2 linked regions of the Homo sapiens genome follow. The protein of the gene in region 1 interacts with the protein of each later gene in a pairwise test. Each region holds a gene or a part of one and is shown in the gene's direction. Other genes may lie near its edges.

Evidence for each region. Proteins that work in one complex are often made in the same cells at the same time.
Region 2: the proteins of DCX (region 1) and ZBTB5 interact in binary tests that used the Homo sapiens proteins (3 or more experiments, as listed by UniProt).

The regions. Positions count from the first base shown.
Region 1 is NC_000023.11:111,293,528-111,297,276, reverse strand, and holds the end of DCX (neuronal migration protein doublecortin), read left to right. Parts: 3' UTR 1-3,498; downstream 3,499-3,749. UniProt on the Homo sapiens protein: Microtubule-associated protein required for initial steps of neuronal dispersion and cortex lamination during cerebral cortex development. May act by competing with the putative neuronal protein kinase DCLK1 in binding to a target protein.
Region 2 is NC_000009.12:37,463,321-37,467,069, reverse strand, and holds the start of ZBTB5 (zinc finger and BTB domain-containing protein 5), read left to right. Parts: upstream 1-1,619; 5' UTR 1,620-1,855; exon of another isoform or gene 1,856-3,146; intron 3,147-3,749. UniProt on the Homo sapiens protein: May be involved in transcriptional regulation.

The DNA.
Region 1 (3,749 bases):
CGTCTGTGCCAAGAGACTTCCCCAGATAGAAACACTGGGACAGTGGTTTGAACGACTTCTTTTATGGTTGTCCAGTTTGCTATGGAAATAAAAGGCATTGATTTTTTAAAAAGATGATTGGAACCTGTCTTTGGCCACATAGGGCCACTTGGATCCATTTCCAGGCCTTACTCATATATTGCCTTCACTGAAGGGCTTTGGCTTTAAGTCCCAGACTGGTCTCCCAAGTGAACCATAAGTGTTTTGGAGCTCATCTGGGGTGAGGCATGAGAATGTTGCCCCATCTATCCCTTCAGGAAAAGGTGCCTTCCCTCCCTTTCTCCTAAAGCCTGGTCCCCAGAAATTGTTTTTGTCTCCAAAAGTCTAGTATGGTCTTTATACACCCAGACTCTTAGTGTTGCGTCCTGCCTTGTTTCCTTGTTAAGGATCTATGCAGACCTCCCGCTTTGGCTTAGCTAGCGTGACATTGGCTATCATTTGACAAGACTAACTTTTTTTTTTTTTTTTTTTTGACTGAGTCTCCCTCTGTCACCTAGGCTGGAGTGCAGTGGCACAATCTTGGCTCGCTGCAACCTTCACCCTTCACCTCCCAGGTCGAAGCGATTCTCCTGCCTCAGTCTCCCGAGTAGCTGGGATTACAGGCGTGCGCCACCAAATCTGGCTATTTTTTTATTATTATTATTTTTAGTAGAGATGGGGTTTCACCATGTTGGCCAGACTGGTCTTGAACTCTTGGCCTCAAATTATCTGCCCACCTCGGCCTCCCAAAGTGCTGGGATTACAGGCATGAGCCACCATGCCCAGCTGACAAGACTAATTTTTTATCCCTTGGTTTATTGGCTTCAACATCTTCTGGAATCAGAGGTGATTTTTTCTTACCTTGGATGCCTGAGACTAGGGGAGTATAGAATTCCAATTGGTAATTAAGGCATCTTTCTGCTCCTGATCAGAAGGGCAGGTTAGTTGGGAGAGGTCAGATGGCACAACAGAAGTCACCTTGTAAGTAAGGCAAAGACTTGAAGGCATTAGCGTTTCTCATTACTAGGTCAATAACCTGAGGGAATCAATGGCTTTTTGCCGCTCTACCTCTTGTGTATCTCTTTGACTTTTCTTTCTCTGTCTAGTTTCCTCTGTTCTCAGTTTATATTCTATGTTATCAGTCTCTCTTTCCACAGTACAAACATCCATCCTTTCTCCTGTGCAATTCTGTCTCTCCCTCTTATTATCTTTATTTGTACTTTTTCCTTCCTCCCTGTCTAGGCATTGGGCATGTGCCTCTTCTTAGCCTGTGATTTTGCCTTGGGACTGATGATAAATTATTTCCAGATTCAATCAGCCCTGGTCCTACCCCAGTCCAATCAGAAGTATGTTGGTGGGAATCAACCTGATCCTGGCCCTTTCTTCTTCTCCATTTTCATTCGTAATCCCCCTCAGCAGATCTTTACAAGCAGTTTCCTTATAGCTCATGTATCTTTAGGTCTTTGCCTTCCAAGCACTGTACAGAATACTTTGTGGTTCCTTTTTAGTCTGACATTTTGTGGAGCAGTGAAGCGTGCTCAGAGACATAATCAGCTGAAGAGAAAAAATCCACCCATGGATTTATATCAGCTAAATACTAATAATTGATTTTGTTTGATGTGCCCATAATTTTTAAAGCTGCAATATAATATAATGAGGGACCACAGGTAATTTCTCCTGTCATTTGTTTTGGCTGGATGGGGGTGGGGGAGTAATTGCTTAAAGTTTTACCATTACACATTAAACTCTCTATAATAATCTTGTTTGGGGCTTGCTAACTGTTGAGCTGTTTTAACTAAACTGGTAGGCAATCGGAGTTGATTTAAATGAAAAGATAATTTAACAAATCTATACTATAAAAAGAGACATTTGCTTAATTGACATGTATTTTTTCCTTCTGAGTCACCTAAACATTTACTCTTGACACCAACTGTTCATGATACTGAATAGACAGTCCATATAAGAGAAATTAGTGGACCTAAAGAAGCCAGATTGTAGGTGTTAATTTATTAAACAGAGTGCAAAGCCCTTGGAAATGTCACTGCTTGGCAATACCATATGGAATGCCAAAATTTACAATGACTTTTCTTTATAAGTTATCCAAAAGGGATTTGAACAAGTAAGAGGTTATGCCAAAATGTCTCCAATGTATGGTCCTGTAATATATTGCAGCTTGAAGCCAATGATCCCTTATGACTTGTATACAACTAATGCATGTTTTATTGAATTTTGCATTTCCCACGTGTGGTAAGTTCTTTAAAATGTTTTTGATCACCTTTTTGTGCCATTAAACTTGTACAGAAAATGTTTTTATGGCCATTTTCAAAGGGAGAAAGTTTAAAATGGAAACAGCCCACCCTTTCTGCCCTATAGCTGTAGTTAGAATTGAGTACCTGTAGCAAAACAGCTGTAATTGGTGGTTGTAGTGTTAGAGGTGTTAGCTTGCTAGTGACTAGCTTTGGAGAGTAAATGCATGGTATTGTACATCACATTTCTTAACTCGTTTTAACCTCTGAAAAGAATATATTCTTCTTTGTAGTCCTTCTTCCCACCCCCTTGCCCTCTCCCTCTCCCTGCTCCCAGTTGTCTTACAGTTGTAAATATCTGATTTGAGGCCCAATAACTCTTGCCAAGTAAAGTCAGCAAACAACAAACAAACCAAAATGTGGGGAAAAGGCATTTCTCAACCATCTCTCAGCAGTTATTGATCATTTCTTAAGGAACAGCATTGTGATCAAAGACTCAACTTTACGTAAAAATCAGTGGTAAATTGGGGTTGTATTTGGCCATTTGATTACATTTCAGGATTGAATAGTTTTCAGAATCACATGTAATCCAAAGACAGTAGGTAGTGATGTCCCTTATCCCTGCAGCTGTTTTAAGATAGAGACCTCAGAAGACTCTGCTTGACCGATGACCAATAATTATTTGAAAAAAAAAGAAAAAATGAGAGAAATAAAACAGATATTTAAGAACTTTAGCCACCTATTTAGAATAGTTATAGCCAGAAAAAAAAACAAGGGCATGAGTTCAAATGCATTACTATCAGTGTCCTAGGCAATACCTAACCTACTCTGAAATTGTGATTCAAAAGCAGTATTTCAAGAGGCATTCTCCTTTTTTGGTTTGCTGACCCCACTTGGACTGGTAGGTTTGGTGAGGCCCCCATAAACCAGCTGGAGCAGACCCTTTTCATCTCCTGTGCCTGTAACACCCCTCTTCCCCCACCCCCTCCGCAATTCAATGAGGGCTTTCTTGGGTCAGAGGACTTCAAGGTTGTCTAGAGAAGTTTGCCATGTGTGTAAGGTGCTGTGAACTGTGAGTGCTGAAGATTCGCAGCATTCAATACCAGGCAGCCAAAGAGCTGCTCTTGCAATTATTTTGGCTCTCAAGCTCTGTTCTTCATCGCATTCTCATTTCTGTGTACATTTGCAAGATGTGTGTAATGTCATTTTCCAAAAATAAAATTTGATTTCAATATTTCTGGCTGACATTCTTTTAAAAACAAAAACAAAAACAAAAAACACTGAACCAATAATCATATAACCTCAAAATGTCCAAGCTGGCAGGGAACTTAGATATTATTTTTTCCAACCTCTTAATTTTATAGAAGAAGAAGCTGAGAGTAAATGTATGATAGAAACACCATAATTATTGGTACAGCACATTTACAAAAAATAAGATCTCAGATCTCCCCCCAGAGTTGAGCAGGAATAAAGTGACCTCCTTTT
Region 2 (3,749 bases), on another chromosome or scaffold:
CACCGAGCCCTTAAAGAAATCCACGCAAACAGGTTGCTTTTTGAAATCAACACTTCCGACCAGTAACTGAAGGGATGGAATCTGCTGTAGGGGTATTCGGTGTGTTCCATTCTTAAAGCGGGGAGTTCCTTTTTTTTCCCCCCAGACGAAATCTCACTCTGTTGCCTAGGCTGGAGTGCAGCGGCACGATCTCAGCTCACTGCAACCTCCGCCTCCCGGGTTCAAGCGATTCTCCTGCCTCAGCCTCCCGAGTAGTTGCCTGGGATTACGGGCGCCCACCACCACGCCCGGCTAATTTTTGTACTTTTAGTAGAGACAGGGTTTCACCATGTTGGCCAGGCTGGTCTCGAACTCCTGATCTCGGGCGATCTGCCCGCCTCAGCCTTCCCAATTGCTGCGATTATAGGCGTGAGCCATCGCGCCCGGCTGGGAGTTCCATTTTTCTGGGAGCTCCTCCAAGACCCTTACCCCCACCCCCAGAAGAACCCAGCTGAGTTCGCGGGCCTGCCTTTGTCTCCAGAGCCACGCAGCGCTCCCAGACACGCTGCGCCGGAGAAGGCAGCTTTCTTCTGCCGTCCTCACCCTAGGAAAGGGGGTTTCTTCCCTGGCCCCAGTGTCCGATGCTCAGGGATCGGGTTCTCCCTCCGAGGGTGCACCTGGAAACCCGAGCGTCGCCCCGGGGCTCGCTTTTTTCAGACCGCGTCCCATACAAGTCCGCGACCCTTCCACGTTTGGGACAGGAGTGGGAGAGCTTAGCGCTTCCTATTTTTTTGTGGGGGGAGTGCAGGTGATTATAAATCTGGGCATGCAGACTACAGGCTTATTTGACCTGCAGCCGAGTGCGGGGCCAAGCGCCGGGCTCCTGGGGCGCCACCGTTTCCAGACGCGCAGCCACCCGGACTGGACGAGGGGCGGGGTCCGACCTAACTGCCATCCGATGGACAGCGTTTTTTATTCGCGGTTTTCACCCTGGACTTTGGCTTAGTTAAACCTAAAGAGCTTTTTGGAATCTTATCTTTCCCAACGTCTATGAAGTGGGAACTCAATCTCCAGCCCTCTACGTGTGTGTGTGTGTGTGTGTTCAGCGAAGGGAATTCACCCCGGAGAAGAGCCCTGGGTCACTAAAGCGCCGGGCACCACGAGGGTGGAAAAATCCTTCAGAACCAGCCAATGGCGGTACGGCCTGCCCTGAGGGCCCGCCTCTCCGGCGCCCTCAGACATCACGCAGTCGTTGTTGTGATTGGCGGATTTAGGCGGAAAGCCCGCTAGCCTAAACCACAGAGGGTTTTGATTGGTTGCAGCGAACAGCCGCATTTCTATAGTCCAAACCTGGAGCAGTTTAGTGATAAATCCCGCCCTAAAAGGCATTTGATAACCGTTTTACATGTTGTAAGGCAAAGGGTGATTGGTCAGAGAGCTCACGGATTCAGTCGGTAGTAAACACAACCAGACTTCAGGGACCGTGGATTGGTCAGTTTTTCCGGGGGCTAAGTAAATTCCTCCAGGTTCCGCGCGCCGGCTGGCTGCACTCCTACCCCGGCCCCGCCCTTCCCATTGCTGATTGGTTGCAGCCCAACTGGGAGAGGCGGAATGGGGCGGAGTAGGCGCTCTTGCATTACGTCACTTCCGCTTATCCTCGGGCGCCGCCGCCGTGTTCTCAGAGTGCTGCGGCGAACTGGCTGGAGGAGCTAGGGGACTAGAGGCGGGGTGGGAGGGGGGCGGGTGGAAGGGGGAGGAAGTCCCGTAACGGAGACGCTGGTCAGGACGTTCCCACCTCCTCTGACACTGCCGAGTCCGATCGGAGAGGGGTCACCGCCTCCTTCAGCGAGGAGGAGGGGGGCGGAGCCCGACTCAGGTGAGGAGACCCCGTCAGCGAGTATCGTGATGGCGGGCGCGCTCACGTGGGGAAGGTTGAGCACCAGGGGCGCGCCAAGGCGTCGGGGAGCGCGCAGACGTGTACTGGTGCCCCCGGACTACTCTGGCTGTCTTTCGGAGGGGAGCATTGTTACCGTTGGAGCCAAGGGGCCAGGCGGGTTCTTCTGCGCAGGCGTCCCCGGTGTCCCGACGCCAGGCTGTCTGCGGGGTGGGGCGGGGGCTGGTACTCCTGTGGATCCCCGGCTGGCGACGTAGGTTCCCGAATGGGGTGGGAAAGGCCTCAGGACCAGCGGCCTGGCGGGATGAAGAGAGGATCTGCTGCCCTGCGGGATGTGGTCGGACGGCTCCCTTGCCCCCATCCTGGGTCTTGAGCGACGAGGTTTCATTTCACCAGAGCAAGGCCATAGGCAGACTGCCATCGGGAGCCAGCGGCCGACCCTGGAGGGGTGGAGCCAGTGTTTCGGAATGCCCCAACTTGTTATGAGAGGACTGAAGTGTTTAATAGGCATTTATTGAATGCCCACTACTCCCAGGCTTCGTGCGAGGAGCTGTGGGGGATGCGGTGGTAAGACACTGCCGTCCCATCTTCTCCTGTTTGGAGGACAGATTTGTATGTAAATAATAAAAGGCAGTGAATTAAGGGGTGTTGAAGGTTAGTTTTTTCCTTTCATAATGGTCATTTTTTTTTAAGTCAGTCAGCATTCTGGCATAGTGAAGGATATTGTGGAAACTAATTTTCTGAACAGAAGGCAAATCCTAAATAATTTGGAGGAAAAATTTTAGGTGAAAGCACAGTAAAGTTGATTACTAAGTAGTATCTTCTGACTCTAGTTAACTTGAATTAATAGAAGGAACTCTTCACCTTCAAAAATTGAAGCAAAAATATTCCAAAACATGTTCTCATATTTTTCACTTGTATTAAGTAGAGGACATTACGGGCTTTTCTTTAGAGGTTGAAGAGAATGCTGTGCCTTAGTCATTAAGTCATTGGTAATTTGTTGTCCTAGTATGGGCTGTTGTGCTTAGATGTAAAAGGCTGGGCAGAACTTGCTTTTCATTTGCCTAAACTCTTGTGATTTCTGTGGGGACGGTGGTTGGCAGTAAGCTAATAGTTCAGAGGGAAAAGTCCAGATGGGAAGAAGACAAGGAATTTTAGAGAAAAGCCCCTAAGCCAAAGGAAACCGTTCACTCTTCCTTTTAACCCTTATGGAAATCTCATCAAATTTGGGAAGATTGACCTGGCCACCACAGCCAGCTTGGTGACCTTACAGGTAAGACTACTTGGGTGGGGACCTGTTTTGGGCCCTTGGGTTTTGCTGAATAAACAGACTCTTTTTTTGAAGAGTCCTGAAGTCAACTCGTTTACTAGAGATTTGCCCCTTTTCCCTAAAAGTTGTGTCAAAACATAACTTTTAGTTAGCTGAGGATGCTGGCAAGCTGGATTTTGGTTAATTGATATGTCTCTAGCAGAATTCTGAAAATGGTAAGATTTGGAGGAAAGGCATCTTACAGACTTAGGAGCGAACGCTCTCAAAAGAGACTCACAAGACTGTCCCCAAAGTGGAAGTAATAAAAAATCACTGGGATATCAAATAGTACTTAAAGAACTCAGCATGAATTATATCGAATTGGAGACTTTAAAATATCTTGTGTTCAGTGAAATTGACAAAACCTGGTGTAGTGCTGACAGAGAATCTTGAATCTGGCTCACATTCGTTTTGGAAATGGAAAAAAGAACCCAAGGTATTGATTCTATGTTAGCTTTCAACTTTTTTTTTAATGTAAATTAATTTTAAATACTTTCCCCCTCTGTCAGTTTTAAGCGTGTGATTTTTCTTTTACTGTACGTAATATTTCTCAAATATGGATGTTGT